Linked DNA regions of Homo sapiens. The protein of the gene in region 1 purifies or fractionates together with the protein of each later gene. This does not show direct contact. Each region holds a gene or a part of one and is shown in the gene's direction. Other genes may lie near its edges.

The links. The genes of interacting proteins can lie anywhere in the genome.
Region 2: the proteins of TNNI1 (region 1) and MYH3 fractionate together in Homo sapiens (co-fractionation; one large-scale study listed by BioGRID). This does not show direct contact.
Region 3: the proteins of TNNI1 (region 1) and MYH6 fractionate together in Homo sapiens (co-fractionation; one large-scale study listed by BioGRID). This does not show direct contact.
Region 4: the proteins of TNNI1 (region 1) and MYH7 fractionate together in Homo sapiens (co-fractionation; one large-scale study listed by BioGRID). This does not show direct contact.

Annotation. Positions count from the first base shown.
Region 1 is NC_000001.11:201,408,231-201,413,541, reverse strand, and holds part of TNNI1 (troponin I, slow skeletal muscle), read left to right. Parts: intron 1-420; coding exon 421-510; intron 511-2,008; coding exon 2,009-2,185; intron 2,186-3,106; coding exon 3,107-3,214; 3' UTR 3,215-3,216; intron 3,217-4,291; 3' UTR 4,292-5,311. UniProt on the Homo sapiens protein: Troponin I is the inhibitory subunit of troponin, the thin filament regulatory complex which confers calcium-sensitivity to striated muscle actomyosin ATPase activity.
Region 2 is NC_000017.11:10,654,461-10,659,869, reverse strand, and holds the start of MYH3 (myosin-3), read left to right. Parts: upstream 1-2,560; 5' UTR 2,561-2,581; exon of another isoform or gene 2,582-2,634; intron 2,635-3,721; 5' UTR 3,722-3,780; intron 3,781-4,797; 5' UTR 4,798-4,805; coding exon 4,806-5,009; intron 5,010-5,409. UniProt on the Homo sapiens protein: Muscle contraction.
Region 3 is NC_000014.9:23,398,225-23,402,833, reverse strand, and holds part of MYH6 (myosin-6), read left to right. Parts: intron 1-33; coding exon 34-137; intron 138-231; coding exon 232-370; intron 371-1,856; coding exon 1,857-2,125; intron 2,126-2,407; coding exon 2,408-2,578; intron 2,579-3,796; coding exon 3,797-4,106; intron 4,107-4,609. UniProt on the Homo sapiens protein: Muscle contraction.
Region 4 is NC_000014.9:23,418,612-23,423,220, reverse strand, and holds part of MYH7 (myosin-7), read left to right. Parts: intron 1-895; coding exon 896-1,041; intron 1,042-2,172; coding exon 2,173-2,263; intron 2,264-2,986; coding exon 2,987-3,376; intron 3,377-3,611; coding exon 3,612-3,738; intron 3,739-3,925; coding exon 3,926-4,044; intron 4,045-4,609. UniProt on the Homo sapiens protein: Myosins are actin-based motor molecules with ATPase activity essential for muscle contraction. Forms regular bipolar thick filaments that, together with actin thin filaments, constitute the fundamental contractile unit of skeletal and cardiac muscle.

The DNA of each region.
Region 1 (5,311 bases):
AACTCCTGACCTCAGGTGATCCCCCACCTTGGCCTCCCAAAGTGCTGGGATTACAGGGATGAGCCACCGTGCCCAGCCAAGGATACTAGTTTTTTGTTTGTTTGTTTGTTTTTTTGAGACGGAGTCTCGCTCTGTCACCAGGCTGGAGTGCAGTGGTGTGATCTCAGCTCACTGCAACCTCCGCCTCCTGGGTTCAAGCGAAGGAATACTATTTTTTAAGAAATCATGACATTCAGACAGGAGAACAGAGGGCATACCCTTTGAGCTATTGCCCGTCATGAGCCTCAGAGTGGAGGAGACTGTCAGCTCCTCTCTGGATCCCAGGTCTTGCAAAGGGGCTGGGGAGAGGGTCAAGGGCTGGAAACTGATGTCTCTGTTCCCCTCTTCTTCACACCTGCATGATCCATCTGCGGCCCCCAGGACCTGTGCCGGGAGCTGCACGCCAAGGTGGAGGTGGTGGATGAGGAGCGATACGACATTGAGGCCAAATGCCTCCACAACACCAGGGAGGTGAGTCTAAGGAAGGGAAGGGGCATGGCCATAATGGGTTGGGCAGGGGCATGGGCACGGATGCAGCAGCCATGGGAGGTCCCCTCCTTCCACAGGGCCTAGGAAGGGGCCACTTAAGCAGGAAACTTTGGTTTGTCTGCCCTAGCCCCATAGGGCTGGAGATGGGTAGAGTGGATAATCACACATGAAAAGTACAAACTTCCTCCCTACCTGCCATGTGGGCTCATCAGCCTAACAGAAGCTGCTCTCTTTATCCACCCACACAAATAATCATATGCCTGTTAATAACGTCTTACCTTTGTGAAGTGCTTTCATGTTCGTTATAGCCTTTGATCCTCCTTATAGGCCTGTGGATGAAGTAGGGGCTATTATCTGCACCTTGCAGAGGAGAACACTCAGGATCAGAGAGGCCAAAGACTTGTCCTAGGTTGCACAGTGGTGGTCCTGGGACCAGTGCTGGTCTCTGGCTTCCACTCCGGTGCTCTGTGCTCCCTTAGCATGGGGTGTGGGAGGATTAGCTCCACCCAGACCCTGCTCCAGTGGGGAGGGGCAGAGCAGAGAAGGACAGGGCTCCTTTGGGGCATTTGTCCAGGCAGTGAGGAGGGGGCAGGGAGGGAGCACAAGCCACTTCTCTCCTTCCCACTTCTGCCCACCAGGAATTATATGTGGGGTCACCAAGCTCCTAAGAACTCCCCCTAGAGATCACACCCTGGGAATTCCTCCAGGGGTCTAGGACCTGTAAGTTTATCACCCTGCTGGACCAAGGCTGTGAGCTGCTTTGAAGGCTCACTGGGGAGGAATAAGTTAGAAGCAGGGATGAGGCTGCAGGAACAAGAGGAAGCAGCCCTGCACTCCAAATAGGGCTTCCAAATCAGACAAGTCTCAGTCTGGTGGAGCCGCCCCTTTTATTCAAGGCTATAGTGTTAGCAACGGCTAATAGGCTTTATCTGTCCACTTAACCATCCGTTTATCAGCAAATGTGCAGTGGTTATTTGCAAAGGGATGGGTGGGTCTGACTGTCCTAGAGCAGGGATCTCCAACTCTTGGGCTGTGGACCAGTACCTGTCCGTGGCCTGTTAGGAACTGGGCCACACTGCAGCAGGTGAGCAGTGGGCAAATGAGCATTCCCGCCTGAGCTCTGCCTCCTGTCAGATCAGCGGCGGCATTAGATTCTCACAGGAGTGTGAACCCTATTGTGAACTGTGCATGTGAGGGATCTAGGTTGCACGCTCCTTATGAGAATCAAACTCATGCCTGATGGTCTGAGGTGGAACAGTTTCATCCTGAAACCACCCCACCACCTCTCCGTGGAAAAAGTGTCTTCCACAAAACCGGTCCCTGGTGACAAAAAGGTTGGTGACTGCTGATAGGTCTGGCTTCAAGGGTGGACAATTTAAGGTGTATCTCTGGCTGGAACCCTAGCAGTCTGAGGTCCTCAGGAAGGGTGTCCTGTGGCTAGCTGCCTCTCCAGTGAGCCCCGGGCGCTTCTCACCTACAGATTAAGGACCTGAAGCTGAAGGTGATGGACCTCCGTGGGAAGTTCAAGCGCCCGCCCCTGCGTCGAGTCCGTGTCTCGGCTGACGCCATGCTCCGGGCCCTGCTGGGCTCCAAGCACAAGGTGTCCATGGATCTGCGGGCCAACCTCAAGTCTGTGAAGAAGGAAGACACAGAGAAGGTGAGGTCCCTTTCCTCAGAACATTCCACCCTCTGCCCTACCAGCTTTCCCCTTGTCAACCCCTCACATGGCCTCAGGCTGGCCCAGGAGCTCCTGTTGGAGACCAGTCAGCTTGACAGACAGAACATTCTAGAATGCTTTGGGAGACCAGTGTGGGAAGAAAGAAAGAAGATTTGCTCCCTTCCTTCAGGCTGTTCCCAGTCTGACGAAGAAACTAGGACATAAAGAAAGCTAGACCCCAGACGGAGAAATGAAGTAAAAATCTTGTTCCCAGTGTGAAGATAATGTGGAGATTTAGGGTAATGGTGGAGATGACTGCCTGGTCACCACAGGGAAAGGAGACAGCAGCTCATCTTGGTTATAGCCACACACGAGCATAGACATTAGAGAACTGAGTTCAACCACCCAGCAACAAATTATTCAAAGTTGGTTGAATTCACAGTATATGTGCCCCAAATTGATAGGCTCTGTAAGGAACAGGGATGAAGGAACAGTCTCTGGCCCAAGAAGCTTCAGAGGAGAAGAGATAAGCCAGACAATATACTGAGGAAATGGAAAAGCAGCCGCATTTGCAGGGGAAGACTTCTTGGAAGAGGTGGCCTTGAGCCTGCTGAGTGCCAGACCAGGAGGGTGGCATGGAGCCTTGGAGGAGGTTTTGCTGAGGTGCACTGAGGTGGGAACTAGCCCCATAGCTGCCACTTTCACCCAGTGCTCCCAAGCCACACAGCTTCCTTTTTCCTGTGGGGCCTCGGCTTGGCCTGTGTCCACCTGCCTGGCTGAGTCCTAGGACCTTACCAGCTGGGGAGGGGCATCAGGATTTCTTATCATCCGAGGAGACTGGTTTCCTATCACCCAGCTTCTCTTGAGCTGGGGGGCCGTCCAGCCTGGTAAGTCCCTGATGTGTGTGCCACTTGTCTACAGGAGCGGCCTGTGGAGGTGGGTGACTGGAGGAAGAACGTGGAGGCCATGTCTGGCATGGAAGGCCGGAAGAAGATGTTTGATGCCGCCAAGTCTCCGACCTCACAATAGAGGTACCTAGAGACCAGCTCCCTTCTCTGGGGTCCATCAGAGTCTAGAGGATAATGAGGGAGTCCACAATGGGCAGGCGGGTTGTACTTAGTGTGGTGCACGGATGCACGGACTAAGGCACCGATGAGACTGATTTGAGTCGGCTCTCCTGGGCTCAGTCCTGGCTCCAGCACCATGATACTTGGGCATGTCATTTCTGTTTGGCGGCCCTTTTTGTTCCCATTATCTATGAAATTGGGGGCTGTATCAAATCAGTGGTTCTCCAAGTGTGGTCCTGGGACCAGCAGCGTCTACATCACCTGGGATGCAAATGATCAGCCCCCACCCCAGATCCACTAAATTGGAAACTCTGGGGTGAGGCCAGCCTTCTAGGTGATTCTGATGCACATGAGAGTTTGAGAACCACTAGGTTAGAGGGTCCCTGGGATCCCTTCATCTCTGACTTTCTGAGAATCTATGCACTTTTAAATACCTCCTGGTGATGTCCTTTATTTGTGCTCCCTGCGAAGTACCCAGCACTCACAGTACCTGTTCCCAAGGAGCTACCACTCACAGAAGCTAAGACTTCCCACCATCTGAGGAAATAGCTGGAGAAACTGGGCAAAGCAAGGAAATCAGGCCACGTAAAACCCTCTACGGAAGTGCTGAGAGAATGTGCAATAGGGCAGGCATCCACCAGACAGCACTGGTCAGAGCAGGCTTTCTGGAGAGGAGGAGCTCTCTGAGGATGCGACGAGCGAGTGTTAGCTGATAAAGGGAAGGGCATGTTGAAGGGCTGATGGTGCAACAGAAGCATGGAGGTGGGAATTAAGCAGCCACAGAGTAGCATGGCAAGGCTAGGTAAGAGCTGAGGGCCGCAGTGTGGAGGAGCGGTGTGAGGGGTCCCAAAAGGGGAGCAACTGTGCCCGAGGGCCGAGAAGCTGAGGTTTTGTAGGAGCCCTTATGAATGAAGATCCAGTCCGGGGTGCGCTAGGGCTGAGAAGCCCTGGGGACTGCATGTGCTGTAGGTAAGTCAGGGATTCATGCGCTGCACACAGGTCCCCGGGAACTGATGGCTTTGCCTCTTTGTCCCTACAGGCCAGCTTGCTGTGCTGCGCTCTGAGCTCCTGCTTCATGCTTCTTCTCCAACCCAGCTCACTCACCTCTCTGCCTGTGTCTGGAGCATCCCTTCCCACCTCTCCCCCACTTCTTCCCTCCAGCCTGCATGCCCTCCTCTGGAACTGGGATTAAACAGATACCCAAGAGGCAGGAAAAACGCGAGTGTCTGAAGACCTCACCCTGGCAGGGTGGGCTTCTATCCACCCATGAGGCACCTGGGGCTTCTCAGCCACCCCGTGGTGTAACAAGTGGAGGAGGAGGAGGGGGTGAGAACACCTTTCCTCCAGCCCTGTGCCACACTCCTTCTATGTGTGTACAGTGTCCACAGGCATCACACCTTCTTCATTAAAAACCCAGTTTCCTGGTCATTTCTGCAGCTCTGACTGTGAGCCCTGAGAAGAAAGGGAAGACTTGGGGCTTGGGAAGAGAGGGCTGTGCTGGGCTCCAGTCACCCTGTCTGCAGTCCGGAGCTCGGGATCTGAAGGGAGGGCTAAGGAATTGGTGGCTGCTTGCCAGGGTCCCCTGGGGCCCCTTCTGCCCAGTCCCTGTGACGTCACACTGCACACACTCACCACCCAGGATGCTCAGCTCACCAGAGCCCTGACCTCCGAGAAATGACCCCGTCCTGCCCCTGACTCTGGCCATCAGAAGAGGCCTCTCCATTAAGAGCCGCTTCTCCTGCCGGCTTTCATACTCTCCTTCCTCTGCAAACCTGGATTAACTCTCCCTGATGTGTGCTGGGTTGAGAGGTCAGGGCACTTTCAATCCCTCACCTAGTCCTGCTGCACAGGGCAGGAGGCCTCACAGAAGAGATACTTGCAGTTCCAGGCCTGGCCACCAGGTGACGCCTTCCTTCTCTCCTGGGCTCTCCTGTCCCTCCGGCCTCTGCTCTCCCCACGTTCACCCACCCTCCTCCCAATTGTTTCCCCTTCACACTCCTGCACTGGTCCTATCCCCCAGGACTGATTCTTTCCCGGAGATGGGGTGGCCACTTATCTG
Region 2 (5,409 bases), on another chromosome or scaffold:
ATTTCTCCTGGAGAGCTGACCTCTATCCCTGACGCTGGCCCTCTTCTCACCGCTTCCAGCAAGCTTCCTGTGGCTCCTGCCTTCGGTTTCCTCATCTGAAAAGGAGACAGTTCAGCCAAAGAGATGGTTCAGCAGGGTGTTCTTTCTCCCTCATTTGAACGCGATCAGCATGGGTGCCTTTCTGGTCCACTCAACACCTTTGATCTTGTACCACACAGTTCATCTGGGGGAACGTGTCTTCCTCTTCTCAGCCCTACAGACGAATGCCTCTTTGAAGGCAGGGACCAGGCCATCTCCATGTGGAGCACTCTGGAAGTTCTGGGTTCTGTGCCTGACACATAAAAAGTGTCCAGTGATGTCTATATTACTGAAAAATAAATACGTAAGATAGGAGGAATGATCCAGACTAAAAGAAACTGCCAAGATCTCACAGCTGAACACTCTAGGAGTCTGTGACGTTTTCTCCTAGATTCACTTATATTTGTTTGCTGAAGATGAAGAATTCTGATGAAGAGAAGGAAGGAAACAAGGACAGTGTGGAAAGCCAGGCGAGAAGCCATCAGCATTTTAGAGCTTGTATTAGGTCCTAACGTGATATGGGTGCTCTCTTAAGGGAACTAAAAGAAATGTTGAAGGGAATATTTCTTTTCTGTCTCCTGGAGGTGAGTATGGATGTAGTTATATAGATAGATGAGTACATTGGTCACTGCAAAAGGGAAAAAGCAAAATTGCCCCCTATTTCATTTCCACACAGTTCCTCCTGTCAACAGGTCTGGGTGTTGACGTAGGAACTGCAAGTTCCCACGTCCACCCCCGCCACACCCACAGCCTGCCCTGCATACACCACTGCTGGAGATGTAGCCAGGACAGCTTGCCCTGTCCCCTGACCCCACGGACCTTGTTAACACCGCTGCTCCCCTCGGTGATATTTACCTGTCCGTGGCTGTCCTGACCAATACTCCCAAGGAGACAGTGCATCACTGGGCCAACAGGGCAGAGCCCCAGGGGACCACTCCCTTTACGACATGGACGGACACTTTAGGAGTGACGGTTACCCTCTCCTTGGATGAGGAGGGGCTCCAAGGATGGACATGTCAGTCTCACCTGGAGGGAGAGGGGCAGTGGGTGGGGGCAACGCTCAGTGGCTGGTGGACAGGCAAGGGGTGAGTGAGCCCTGCCCAACTGACTCCATTGGCGGCCACTGGCCTTGCCTGGCATTCACGGAACAGGCGCTTCATAAACTTGTTGCTTCAATGTGAAATCACCTCAATTTTGTAAATGCGTCTGTAGCATCCACAGGACTCATCATCTAGAATTCAAACCCTTAAGGGTAAAGGCTGCGTCTTCTGTTTCCTCTGCGTCTTCTCGAAGCACTGTGTGTAAGGGCCAGAGCACAGAGGATGTTTCATACACGTGCCTTTGCCCTGAGACCGCAGCCCTGCCTCCCCGGTCCCACGCAGACCTCATGGAGTGGCCTCCACTTCGGGGCTTGGTACTGCTGTGTACGGAAGGGGCGGTTTCTATGGGAAACATGGACAAACAGTTCTATTTGGAATAAGCAACCACAGGGTGCCCACCCAGCCATCCTCCCAAAGATTTGTCAAGAAAAAAAAAGTAGAACGAGAATGGGCAAAAGCGTCCGACATACTTTACTCTTCTCTTGAGGCTTTATTTTTCCACTCCTGATTTAGAGATGACCACATTTGTTAGACAGCCCCCCCTTGTCCGCCCTTTCTCTGCAGGCCACCACCGTTCCCCCTACCCCATCCCAGCCAGCAGCTGGTCTTTCCTAATTGGTAATCTGTCTTAATAGCCACAGGTCCTCAGGCAGCTGTCGCCGGGAATACGAGCTGGCAGCATAGATCCACGTCACTAACTTAACTGGCTGGTCCTATTAGAGCTTAAGAAAGAATTAAGTTAATAATGATACTAATGAGACAGAACGTTGCATAGGAGAAAATAAGAGAAAGAAGGAGAGGAGTAGAAGGAGGAGAAGGGAGAAGAGGGCAAGGGGGGAGGGGAATTATTGCTATTAATTATTATTATTATTAATTATTCCTGGCACAGGTTTTGCAATCACAACCCAAGGTTGTGATAAAATCTTGCTCAAAATTCAAAAAGGATTTCAACTTTTCACTCTCAGTCTTATTCACTTTTCCATATGATGAGATTTCTAAGTAAGCCACCCGACTTCAGTCCTTGGTGCCCAATAGCTAGGGGCTCACGCCGCGTTCAGGGTGTGATGAGCGCCTGAGAACGGAGGTGGCTGCCCCCGCAACTCCTCCTGGAGTGAGGCCATCCCATCCCATCAGGGGAGGGAGCACCGGCCCCAAGTTCAGAGAAAGGCATCCCAAGCTCCTGACATTCTGCGGTCGGAAAATGGTGATGGATCCTGCTCATTTCTAATTATACCTTTCCCTTGGCAACGACAAAGATACGTGTGGAAGAAGCTGGTTCTCGGCTTGGGGGGGCCACTCATCCTCTTGCCAAATATAGAGAAGGAATGAGCCGCGGGGGTTACCAATGGCCTATAAAAGCCCCGGGGAGCAGCCAGCCCTCTGTGGCTCGCTTGTGGGCGGAGGTAAGTCACAGGCTCCTCTTCTAGGTCTCAGCTGCTTGGAGCACACCCACCCGGTGAGCACATCCACACCCCGTGCGTGGTTCCCTGGCCCTGCCTGGCTCTGCTGAGGTGGCGCCTCATGCCTTTCTGAGTTTTCTTAGGATAAGCAAGGTGTAGAGAGCGAGGTTCCCTGGGCCCAAACACCCAGCACCCTCTGGCTCCAGCACCTCCCCCAAGCAGGAGCCCTGCAGGTTCTCTCTCCTCCACACACTCTCCCCTGTCCTCCTCTCCAAGTGTCCTCTTGGGCAGGATCCTTTTGGATGCCCCGTGAGCCCAGCTGCCATGGCTTGACCTTCTCCCATTGCCTCTGTGACCCATGAAGGGTCAACAGGACTGGGGACCTCACTCTGCCCTCACCTTCCCCACCTGGGCTGTACATCTGCCAGGTGTCTTGTCCTCTCAAGACCACACTGGCTGTGGGCATTGCGTGTAAATTAATCTCAGAGATATTGCCTGTTCACAGACAAGGAGACCTGCCCCTGCCCTCGAACTGTTGACTTTAAGCAGGGATGCGGTCCCTGCTGTCCGATTCTAAATGGGAGTGAGGAAGACTGAAGAAGGTGCCAGTGCAGGCTGAGAGAAACCAGATTTCTGCACAGCTGAGGGTTTTTCCTCCCTGCCTGGCTTCCTGTGGGTCACGTCCCATCTGCTCTTCCATCTTCCAGCCTGCCTCTTTAAAGTATTAGTCTTTTTTTTTTTTTTTTTTTTTTTTGAGACAGAATTTTGCTCTTGTCGCCCAGGCTGGAGTGCAATGGCACAATCTCGGCTCACTGCAACCTCTGTCTCCCAGGTTCAAATGATTCTCCTGCCTAAGCCTCCAGAGTAGCTGGGATCACAGGCATCTGCCGCCACGCCCAGCAATTTTTTAAATTTATTTTTTATTTTTAGTAGAGAAGGGGTTTCACTATGTTGGCCAGACTGGTCTCAAACTCCTGACCTCAGGCCATCTTTCCGCCTCGGCTTCCCAAAGTGCTGGGATTACAGGCGTGAGCCATGGCGCCTGGCCCCTTTATCCTTTTTAGTTAACTCGTCAGAAGCCGATTCTACATGGACGCAGCCACCCCAAGTGCCGCTAAGTTGTGTATGTGCATATTCTTCCAGGTCTGGGATCTCCTGGCTGTTGCTGTCTTCTGCTCTCATCCTGCAGGTGGGACTCTCAGGTGAGAAGTTGGGCCCTGTCCCTCGGCTGTTGGAGATCTCCAGGCAATCCAAGCTTGCCAGTTCCTTTCTCCCTCCTCCCACCGGCCATAAGGGCACAGAGGGACAGGGGAACTAGCACATTTAGACAAGGACAGGTCGTGGCCGGGTGCAATGGCTCACACCTGTAATCCCAGCACTTTGAGAGGCCGAGGTGGGCAGATCATGAGGTCAGGAGTTCAAGACCAGCCTGACCAACATGGTGAAACCCCGTCTCTACTAAAAATAGAAAAATTAGCAGGACGTGGTGGCAAGTGCCTGTAATCCCAGCTACTCAAGAGACTGAGGCAGGAGTATCGCTTGAACCTGGGAGGCAGAAGTTGCAGTTAGTGGAGATCGTGCCACTGCACTCCAGTCTGTGACAGAGTGAGACTCCATCTCAAAAAAAAAAGGCAAGGACAGGTCAGGCGGGAGAGGAGGTGGCATTTGGGGGACTGTCAAACAGATGCTGATGTCAGATGCTTGATTTTGTTCTTAGCAACCCAAGGAAGCAAAAGGCAGGTTCCCGCATACGAGCGTGTAGCCACCTTGATTGAAATGGTTCAAAAATATCTTTGCTGTTTGCCATTAGCACACTCTCTTTGAAGATGGCGTTTATTTTTTAAGGGTGTTTATTTTTAAACGTTCCCTCAGCAACACCTGGTTGTCACAGAAGCGGAAAAGGCGGTCCCAAGAGTGGTGCTCACTTCCAAACCCCTTATCGCCAGTTCAAGCCTCAGATGCTTGAGGAGCTTGGGTTAAATAGGCTGTAAGACTGTCGCACAAGAAGCCCCTCAATAAATATGCACCCGTGTGATTTCCCAGCACTGAAGCCCTTTGGGTGGAGCTTCTCAAGGCATGAGGACAGCCTGGTTCCTGGGGCCCTGACTCTGAGGGCTCCTGCGGCTGAAGGAGGGCAGGGTGGAGGCTGAAACAGGCCTGGAGCTGCTGGGTGCCTGGCAAGGGGGCTGCTGAGCTCACCGGGTGGGTTTGCCTTCCAGCTGACACCATGAGTAGTGACACTGAAATGGAAGTGTTCGGCATAGCTGCTCCTTTCCTCCGGAAGTCAGAAAAGGAGAGGATCGAGGCTCAGAACCAGCCCTTTGATGCCAAGACGTATTGCTTCGTGGTGGACTCAAAGGAAGAATATGCCAAGGGGAAAATCAAGAGTTCTCAGGATGGGAAGGTCACTGTGGAAACTGAGGACAACAGGGTAAGGCTCTGTACCCTCCACAGGCTGCTGGCCCTCCACCTGGTCCTTGTGCTTGCCTGGGGTATGCATCTGCCCAACCCCAGCCACTTCCAGATGTGGTTCCAGCACTGGAATGCCGCATACAATGTAGCCTGGGGCTTCCCAGGTATCCTCAGAGAAAGCAGAGTGAATACTGGCCTCAGGTTCCAGGGTGGGAATAGAGTCTGGCTGTGGCTGATTAAAACAATTAGTTTTCAGGTATTTTTGTCCACGTTCACTGTAGGCCAGAGGGGCCCAGCTCCACGTGTCCCAAGGGTGTGGAGTTGGGAGTTCAACATGAATGAGCGCTGTTTCAGAACACTCTCCTTTGGTAGCCTAGATTTGTCCCAAATTATTCTATCAATGGCCATCTAACCAAGGA
Region 3 (4,609 bases), on another chromosome or scaffold:
CCTTGCCCCTGCCTCACCCCTTGCCTGGTGCAGACATGCTGCTGGTCACCAACAATCCCTACGACTACGCCTTCGTGTCTCAGGGAGAGGTGTCCGTGGCCTCCATTGATGACTCCGAGGAGCTCATGGCCACCGATGTGAGTGAGGGGGCTGCTGCGGCCGTTCGAGGGACCCCAGGAGCTCCTGGGGCCACCGCTCCAACCCCCCTCTTTGTCTCTCGCTCTGTCCCAGAGTGCCTTTGACGTGCTGGGCTTCACTTCAGAGGAGAAAGCTGGCGTCTACAAGCTGACGGGAGCCATCATGCACTACGGGAACATGAAGTTCAAGCAGAAGCAGCGGGAGGAGCAGGCGGAGCCAGACGGCACCGAAGGTGGGAGGGGCAGGCAGGCAGCCCTGGGAAGGCCTGAGGTGCTGACCAGGCTCTCTGCGGGACTCAGATCCCAGAGACTCTGAGGCTTGTGGGGCAGTGGGGTGTGTTGTGGGATGGTGAGGGACAGGGACGTGGGAGACGTGGGCAGACAGAGAGTCCACCACAATCCCAACTCCTCAACCCCAGCTGCACTCACCAGAACTGAGGTGGGGAATTTTCCTCCTGTGCCCAAGACTCCCCCAGCCCCAGGAAGCACAGCCCCTGAGCTCTGCACATCACCATCACTAATGCAGGGCCTTTGCCTGCCCAGCCCTTGGGTAAGCCCCTCGTGGGCTCATACCATGTTGTTTGGGAGGCAGTGGGCCAGGGGTCAGGACATAGCCCAGGGCATTGGTGTGTCAGTTTCCTCCTCAGTGAAATGGATCAACAATCTTTCCTCACTCCTCTGGTGGCTACTGTGAGGTCCTTTGAGAAAATGTGAAGGTGCAAACAGTGCTAGACAGGTGCCCAAGAACATTCCTCCCTACCTTCAGGGACCCTTCTCCAAGTCTGCCCAGATCAAAGTGTCAAGCTGGGGTTCATGATAACACACCAACAGTTATTACAACATTCTTGAAATTACACCAAATAACTCCTCCTCTAAACAGAGAAATACCCATGTTGGGTGGCACATTTGGATGGCTGGGGGTAGGAGCGTGGTACTGTCTGATATACTCTCAGCCAGTCAGATTGGGTAACATGTGGATGGAGAAGACAGCATGGCCAGTCCAGGGCTAGACACTGGGGTAGAGAACGAAGGAGACAGGGAGCAGAGGACATCTAGCCCCTCAGCCACACCCTTGCCCTGGAGAGGCGAGGGATATGGTGAAGGTGGGGATATGCCCACAGCAGTGCTTGTGAAAGACCTGACCCAGAGATGCCACAGATGTAGAGACAGAGCTGAGAAGAGCCAGTTGTGGCAAGAGGCCATGGGCCGGATAAGGGGGCTGTGCTCCAGCCTGACTCAGGCACACGTTGGTTGAGTAACCAAGGCAAGCCCTGTGCTCTTCCAGGCCTTGATTTCTTCCTCTTTAAGGAAAAGAAATTGGACCTGATGCTTCCTAAAGTCTTGGCCCCAGGACAGGGAAGGAGGCTCACTCCCTGAAAGTGTTCACTCAGGCCAGGTGCAGTGGCTCATGCCTGTAATCCCAGCACTTTGGGAGGCCAAGGCAGGTGGATCACTTGAGGTAAGGAGTTTGAGACCAGCCTGGGCAACATGGTGAAACCCTGTCTCTACTACAGATACAAAAATTAGCCTGGCATGGTGGCTCATGTCTGTAGTCCCAGCTACTTGGGAGGCTGAGGCAGGAAAATCACTTGAACCCAGGAGGTGGAGGCTGTAGTGAGCCAAGATCGTGCCACTGCACTCAAGCCTGGGTGACAGAGCAAGCCTCTATCTTAAAAAAAAAAAAAGGAAGTGCTCACTTATCCTTTCCCTCTCAACCAGATGCTGACAAGTCGGCCTACCTCATGGGGCTGAACTCAGCTGACCTGCTCAAGGGGCTGTGCCACCCTCGGGTGAAAGTGGGCAACGAGTATGTCACCAAGGGGCAGAGCGTGCAGCAGGTGTACTACTCCATCGGGGCTCTGGCCAAGGCAGTGTATGAGAAGATGTTCAACTGGATGGTGACGCGCATCAACGCCACCCTGGAGACCAAGCAGCCACGCCAGTACTTCATAGGAGTCCTGGACATCGCTGGCTTCGAGATCTTCGACGTGAGTTGGGACCCCTGGGAGTGGGAGAACAATCACTCGCTTGCTCCTACATTCAACAGCCATTTGCTGAGAGCCAGCTGTGGACCAGACATGGGAAGGCAGTGGGGACTGTGTGGTGACAGAGGCAGTCATTGTCCCTGTCTTCAGGGGAAGCCCTCCTCCACTGCCCTGACATGGAGGGGACAGCCATACCCTGCTGGGCTCGGCACAGTGCACGGGCACAGCCCCAATGGCCACTCACACCCACTTTCTGACTGCTCCCACCCCTCATGCCCCCTGCAGTTCAACAGCTTTGAGCAGCTCTGCATCAACTTCACCAACGAGAAGCTGCAGCAGTTCTTCAACCACCACATGTTCGTGCTGGAGCAGGAGGAGTACAAGAAGGAGGGCATTGAGTGGACATTCATTGACTTTGGCATGGACCTGCAGGCCTGCATTGACCTCATCGAGAAGGTGCCTCCTTGGCCTCACCACCTATGCCCCCTCCTCTGCCATCCAGACAAAGTGGTGGCTGAGTCCCTTCTACACCCAAGAAACTAGAGTCCCAAGAATCCCAGGCCTTTCTCCAGGCCCAGCTTCTCCCCACTGTGAAGTCATGGGCATGAACAGGATGATCCCCCCACTCTTCCTTTCCCAGGACCTTGCACTTTATGCCCCTTTGTGGTGGTCCCCTCAGTGTCTTAAGAGTGAGATGTAGTGAAGGAGAGGCCCCTGGCCCCTCTGACCGCCCATGAGAAGCGTCATTCATGGAAAGATCCTAGGCTGAAATTAGAGATGTTTGGCCTCCCACCACCTTCCTGTTGGTTGAGAAATAAGCCAGTCTCCAGCCCTCTTGCTTATGGGCATTCCTCAGAAGAGACAAGGCCGCAGGCGGGAGGCCCCATAGGCTGGGGCTGACTTGCTCTCAGTGAACCTCTGCTCTTTGTCAGCATAGGCCAGAGCCCGGATTGTCTGACCCACACCCAGCCCAGCCACGGCCTTCATGAAATGGGAGCTTCCCCACATGCTTTGGGTCATTATCCAGATTCTTAACCAGAGTTCTCATGTTTCAGAGCCCTCAGAATGCCATAAAACTGTGTGTGGAAAAAAGCATGTGTACATTCATACATACATGTGTGTGCTTGTGCATGTGTGTGTGTGTACGTGTGTGTGTGTACATGCGTTTTTCTGGAGAGACAGTCTTTAGCTTCAACAAATTCTTAAAAGGATTCCTGCCCCAAGAAAAATCAAGAACCACCAGGTTTTTGGAAGTGCAGAGTGTGGTAAAGAACCTGGATCCTTCTATCTAACCCTTGAAGAATTGCTACTGGTGTCATACAGACAGAGCCTGGCCCGGTGCCTCTGACACACATCTGTCCCTGCCCTCCTGCCCCTGGGGCAGTGAGCCATCAGAGAGAAGGGGCTGTGCTGTGAGGCACTGTGGGCCTTGTGGGGGGTGATTAGGAGTGCATGACTCTTTGTTGGACCCACTGGGCAGAAAGGAGGAGGAAGGGGCTTTTTAAATTCCAGGAATATTGGCTTCCTGTTTTAGGGTAAGAGGTACCAGCACAGCGCCCCTTCAGCAGGCCAGCGCTACTGGCTCCAGATTCCTTTTCCTGTCAGGGTATGGGACTGTGGAAGCCTGGGAGTGTGCTCAGTGATTCTCTCTTTGCCTCTTCACCCTGCCCTCAGCCCATGGGCATCATGTCCATCCTGGAGGAGGAGTGCATGTTCCCCAAGGCCACTGACATGACCTTCAAGGCCAAGCTGTACGACAACCACCTGGGCAAGTCCAACAATTTCCAGAAGCCACGCAACATCAAGGGGAAGCAGGAAGCCCACTTCTCCCTGATCCACTACGCCGGCACTGTGGACTACAACATCCTGGGCTGGCTGGAAAAAAACAAGGATCCTCTCAACGAGACTGTTGTGGCCCTGTACCAGAAGTCCTCCCTCAAGCTCATGGCCACTCTCTTCTCCTCCTACGCAACTGCCGATACTGGTAAGCAGGCAGCCCCTGCACTGGGCCAGGGGACTTCTGAAGACACAAAGGGCCAGGGTCCTGCTGCTTCAAAGCACATGACTCCATAGGCAGGCACAGGGGAGCCCATGAGTCAAGCCACCTCCTGGCTCACCTCACCACAGTCCAGCTGGGCTTCTGTAGCACCTGCCGTTCTCCACTTTGTGTTATGAGTGTTGATATAGCTGTCTCATGTTTCCTCAAGATGGGGAGTAACTGGAGGTCAGTGAGGGTGGCACATGCATCCCTGTACCATGCCCAGCAGGGAACGATGCATGTGGGAGTTCTCAACAAATGTTGAGAGGACACTGAACAAAAGAGCCTCCAGTTCAGAAAAGGAAGAGAAAGGATGTGGCTTGAAATGAAGAGGATAAAGTGTAAGAAGAAAAGTAGAGGTTGGGCACGGTGGCTCACGCCTGTAATCCCAGCACTTTGGGAGGCCGAGGCGGGTGGATCACAAGGTCAGGAGTTCGAGACCAGTCTGG
Region 4 (4,609 bases), on another chromosome or scaffold:
TCTCATAAGAACATGATAAATTTCTTTGGAAATTTTGTGAGGCTCCCCAAGTAGAATTTTTGAAATTCCAATATTTAAGGCAGAATCTGATCATTGTTCCCTCTGATGCACATATGTCTGTTGACTCACTTATCACTCTGTATTTTAATTATTTAAGCTTCTATCTCAGCCATAAGACTACAAGCTTCCTTTAGATAGGAACTTAGATCTATTCAATTTGGGGACTGCAGTGCTTAGCACAGAGCCTGATGCCCAGTAGGTGTTTATAGGATGCTGAAAGAATGAATACGGCGGCCAGCCGCGGTGGCTCACACCTGTAATCCCAGCACTTTGGGAGGCCAAGGCGGGTGGATCACGAGGTCAAGAGATCGAGACCATCCTGGCCAATATGGTGAAACCCCATCTCTACTAAAAATACAAAAATTAGCTGGATGTGGTGGCGTGCGCCTGTAGTCCCAGCTACTCAGGAGGCTGAGGCAGAATAATCCCTTGAACCAGGGAGGCGGAGGTTGCAGTGAGCCGAGATCGCGCCACTGCACTCCAGCCTGGCGACAGAGTGAGACTCCATAAAAAAAAAAAAAAAAAAAAGGAGGAAGGAAGGAAGGAAGGAGAGAAAGAAAGGAGAGAAAGAAAGAAAGAAAGAAAGGGAAAGAAAGAAAGAATACGGCTTTGGGGTTTCATCCCACAGTCATTTATTCCTTTATCTATAAAATATTGATTCAGCATCCCCTATATCTAGGCAATCTCACAGTCCCCTAATAACATTTGGCCCACTCTGGGGAAGGTTTCCCAAGTCCTGAACACAAAGATTTACCAAGTCCTGAGGTAACTGAACAACAAAATCACCAAGTCAGGATGCTTTGCCTCACTGGGCCTGGCTCCTTCTCTCTACCAGCTGGAAGGATCCCTGGAGCAAGAGAAGAAGGTGCGCATGGACCTGGAGCGAGCGAAGCGGAAGCTGGAGGGCGACCTGAAGCTGACCCAGGAGAGCATCATGGACCTGGAGAATGACAAGCAGCAGCTGGATGAGCGGCTGAAAAAGTACTGTGTCCCCTCCCTGCTGCCCTTCCTCCTCCCCAGCCCATAACAGTACAAGCAGACCCAAGACAGCCATCCTCTGAGGCAACAACCTCACGCAGCCTCCACAAGTGGAGGCGCAAACCATGGGAAAAGGCCTCCCAGGCAAGGGCTTTCCTCCCCTAGTCCCAGATATCAGGGTTAGTTAGATGGTCCTCCCTGGCAAAAAGTCCATTGTATCCCATGAGTCCTTTCTTCTTGTTAGGCACTCAGTGGGAATGAAAATAACAGCCTTCCCCCTTCATACACATCTCTCTTTGGAGACCAGTTCCTTGACATGGAGGAAGGCTCCACATGAGAGCCTCTTAGGAAAGTCCCTTTGTGGCTTTTCACAGAGAGCCCACAGGGCACCAAGAAATGCCCTCACATTAAAGAAGTCAGGGGATCAGGGCCATTTCTTTGTTTTGCTTAACTTGTGGTTCCAATTCTTAGTGTAAGTTCTTCCAAAATGTATAGACTTTCCAGACTTGGTAAACAGTGAGCTTGCAGAACATATTTTGATAATTGAAGGTCTTATGGTGTTTCAGGCTCAGGACTTTGAAAGGCTTTGAGAATCATCATAATCTACATCCTCATCAAGTTTGTGTTTGCACAGGAATCTTCATACCTTCCCAGGCACAGAATGTGTTGAATAAATGAATAAATACACGATCCTATTTGATTCTCAAAACACCTTTTAAGGATGGTATCTTTAATTTCACTTTACCAAAGAGGAAAATAAGTTTCAGAAAGGTTAGCTGAGTTACCCAAAGCAATAGTGACAAAATTAAAGACCATCAGAGCTAAAAAGGACCTTTGAAACAATCTAGTCCGACCCCCTCATTTTACATTATGAGAAAACAAGGACCAAAGATGGGAATGTCCTGTAGAGCCCAGGCCCCATCACCCTGTCTACAGCACTCCTCCCATTACATTCTTGTTGGATTTCAATCTCACCGCAGGTGTTACACTTCCAGGGATCCTACATCACCCCCAGAAGCTGTTTTTCTAATGAAATCCTACTCTTTACCTGTATCATTACCATTTTCAACCACTGGTGGACCCTCCTGAGGCCCCACGAGTCTCCCTTACCTCACCATCCCTCCTTCCCCACAGAAAAGACTTTGAGCTGAATGCTCTCAACGCAAGGATTGAGGATGAACAGGCCCTCGGCAGCCAGCTGCAGAAGAAGCTCAAGGAGCTTCAGGTGAGGTCTGGACACCCACGCGGGATGCTGAGTCCCTGGGCTGGTTCTGTTTCCCCTGCCCCCTCCTCTAGGGTGTCCTGTTCACAGCATTACAGGAACTGATTATGTGTCCATGGAGGCAGGCACGCAGCTATCACAGTGTGCCCATGGATACATCCAAAAGGGGTCAGGTGATCCACAGAGACCCTGAAAAGGTCACAGGCCTGGAGGGCAGAATTCCTGGCTTCCTGTCTCAGCTCTGCCTTAGTTGGGTGACCTCTGGGAGCCCACTCCAGATCTCTGGGTCTCCATGCCCTCCCCTGTTACATGGAGGTTTTTAAGAGTCCTTCGACTCTGATGGCATGACTTTCCTCCTTACTCTAGAGCAGAAGCTGTGTTAGGTCTTTAGTTGTCTGGTCAGACAAATACGGCTCTCTCATTTTCAACTTTTGTTATTTTTTTATGACTAAACTGCTTAAAATATCCCCAGAACACAGGTCTCTTTGTCCATCTTTAAGAGCAAGTTTCAACCACTTTCCTTCCAATAAAGAGCATGTAGACTGTCAGGCCCTCGCCTAAAGGAAGGCTCTTCAAACTATCTTCCCCAAATCCTTTAATTCCCACCTCTCCACTGGAAGAGCTAAACTGACTTGCTGTTCCAGAGAAGCCGAGAGCCTTTTAGAGCCGGGGGGATTCCAGTGGAGGGGTCCAGGCGGTGGGTCTGAGCCCTTTGTGTCTGACCAGGCACGCATCGAGGAGCTGGAGGAGGAGCTGGAGGCCGAGCGCACCGCCAGGGCTAAGGTGGAGAAGCTGCGCTCAGACCTGTCTCGGGAGCTGGAGGAGATCAGCGAGCGGCTGGAAGAGGCCGGCGGGGCCACGTCCGTGCAGATCGAGATGAACAAGAAGCGCGAGGCCGAGTTCCAGAAGATGCGGCGGGACCTGGAGGAGGCCACGCTGCAGCACGAGGCCACTGCCGCGGCCCTGCGCAAGAAGCACGCCGACAGCGTGGCCGAGCTGGGCGAGCAGATCGACAACCTGCAGCGGGTGAAGCAGAAGCTGGAGAAGGAGAAGAGCGAGTTCAAGCTGGAGCTGGATGACGTCACCTCCAACATGGAGCAGATCATCAAGGCCAAGGCAGGCTCTGCTCGGCCTCCCCTCCTCCAACTTCCTCCTCCCACCTCCCCTTTCTGTCCATGTAGTGTCTCTTCCTTCATGGTTCATTTTCCCACTTCCCTTCCTCTGCCTGGTTCTCAGATCCCCTCCTTCTTTTCACACCTTCCCTCTTCTTTTCTCCTTCAGTTGCACCTCTTACACCCCTTCATTCCCCCCGCCCCCAACATCCATCATATAACTCTCCTTCCCTTCTCAGGCTAACCTGGAGAAGATGTGCCGGACCTTGGAAGACCAGATGAATGAGCACCGGAGCAAGGCGGAGGAGACCCAGCGTTCTGTCAACGACCTCACCAGCCAGCGGGCCAAGTTGCAAACCGAGAATGGTGAGCCTAGAGCAGGGGCTCCATGGTTCCCACCACAGTCTCCCCAACCTCCTGAGCCACTCCAGCCTCGGGCACAAGCCAATACACGCACACACAGACACAGAGTCTCTCCAGAAAATGGGGCCTGAGGGCTAGAGGAGGAGGTGGGGATAGAGAGGAGTGCTGATCTAGAATGGTGCTTCCCCAGGTGAGCTGTCCCGGCAGCTGGATGAGAAGGAGGCACTGATCTCCCAGCTGACCCGAGGCAAGCTCACCTACACCCAGCAGCTGGAGGACCTCAAGAGGCAGCTGGAGGAGGAGGTTAAGGTAAGGGCTAGACTCGGGCCACCTGGCCCAAGCAAGGAGCACACTGACTAGCCTTGCATCAAATCACTTCCCTTCCCAGCAATAAGGCTGGCTGTGGACCAACAGTTCTCCAAGAATTCTAAAAAGAAATCACAGCCCAAACCCTGCCACATGCCATCTACTCCCCAGGCTGAGGCCCTCTGCTTCTGCTGCATCCCTGGACGGGAGGCAGGGTGTGAGAAGGAGGAGAGAAAATGAACTAGGGAGGCACGAGATGGCCTTGCCCGGGCACGGCTAGGGGATGTAGGGACTGCACAAATGGGTCCTGGGATTTGCAGGGCCACCTGAAAACTGGAGAAAGAAATTCAACTGGAGCCTATTCCTAGCACTTTGCTGGACTCATGAAAAAGGAGAAAGAACATGATTTTTAAAAAACTCCAGGGTTCATACTAACCTGCCTCTTATAGCTCAGTGATCTTAGGTTAGGGAAGTCCCCTAACCTTTCTGAGCCTGTTTCCCTCTCCCCAGCCAGGTAAAATGGCGGTGATGATGACCATGTCTGGTGTGGGGAGGAGCTCAGGGCCAA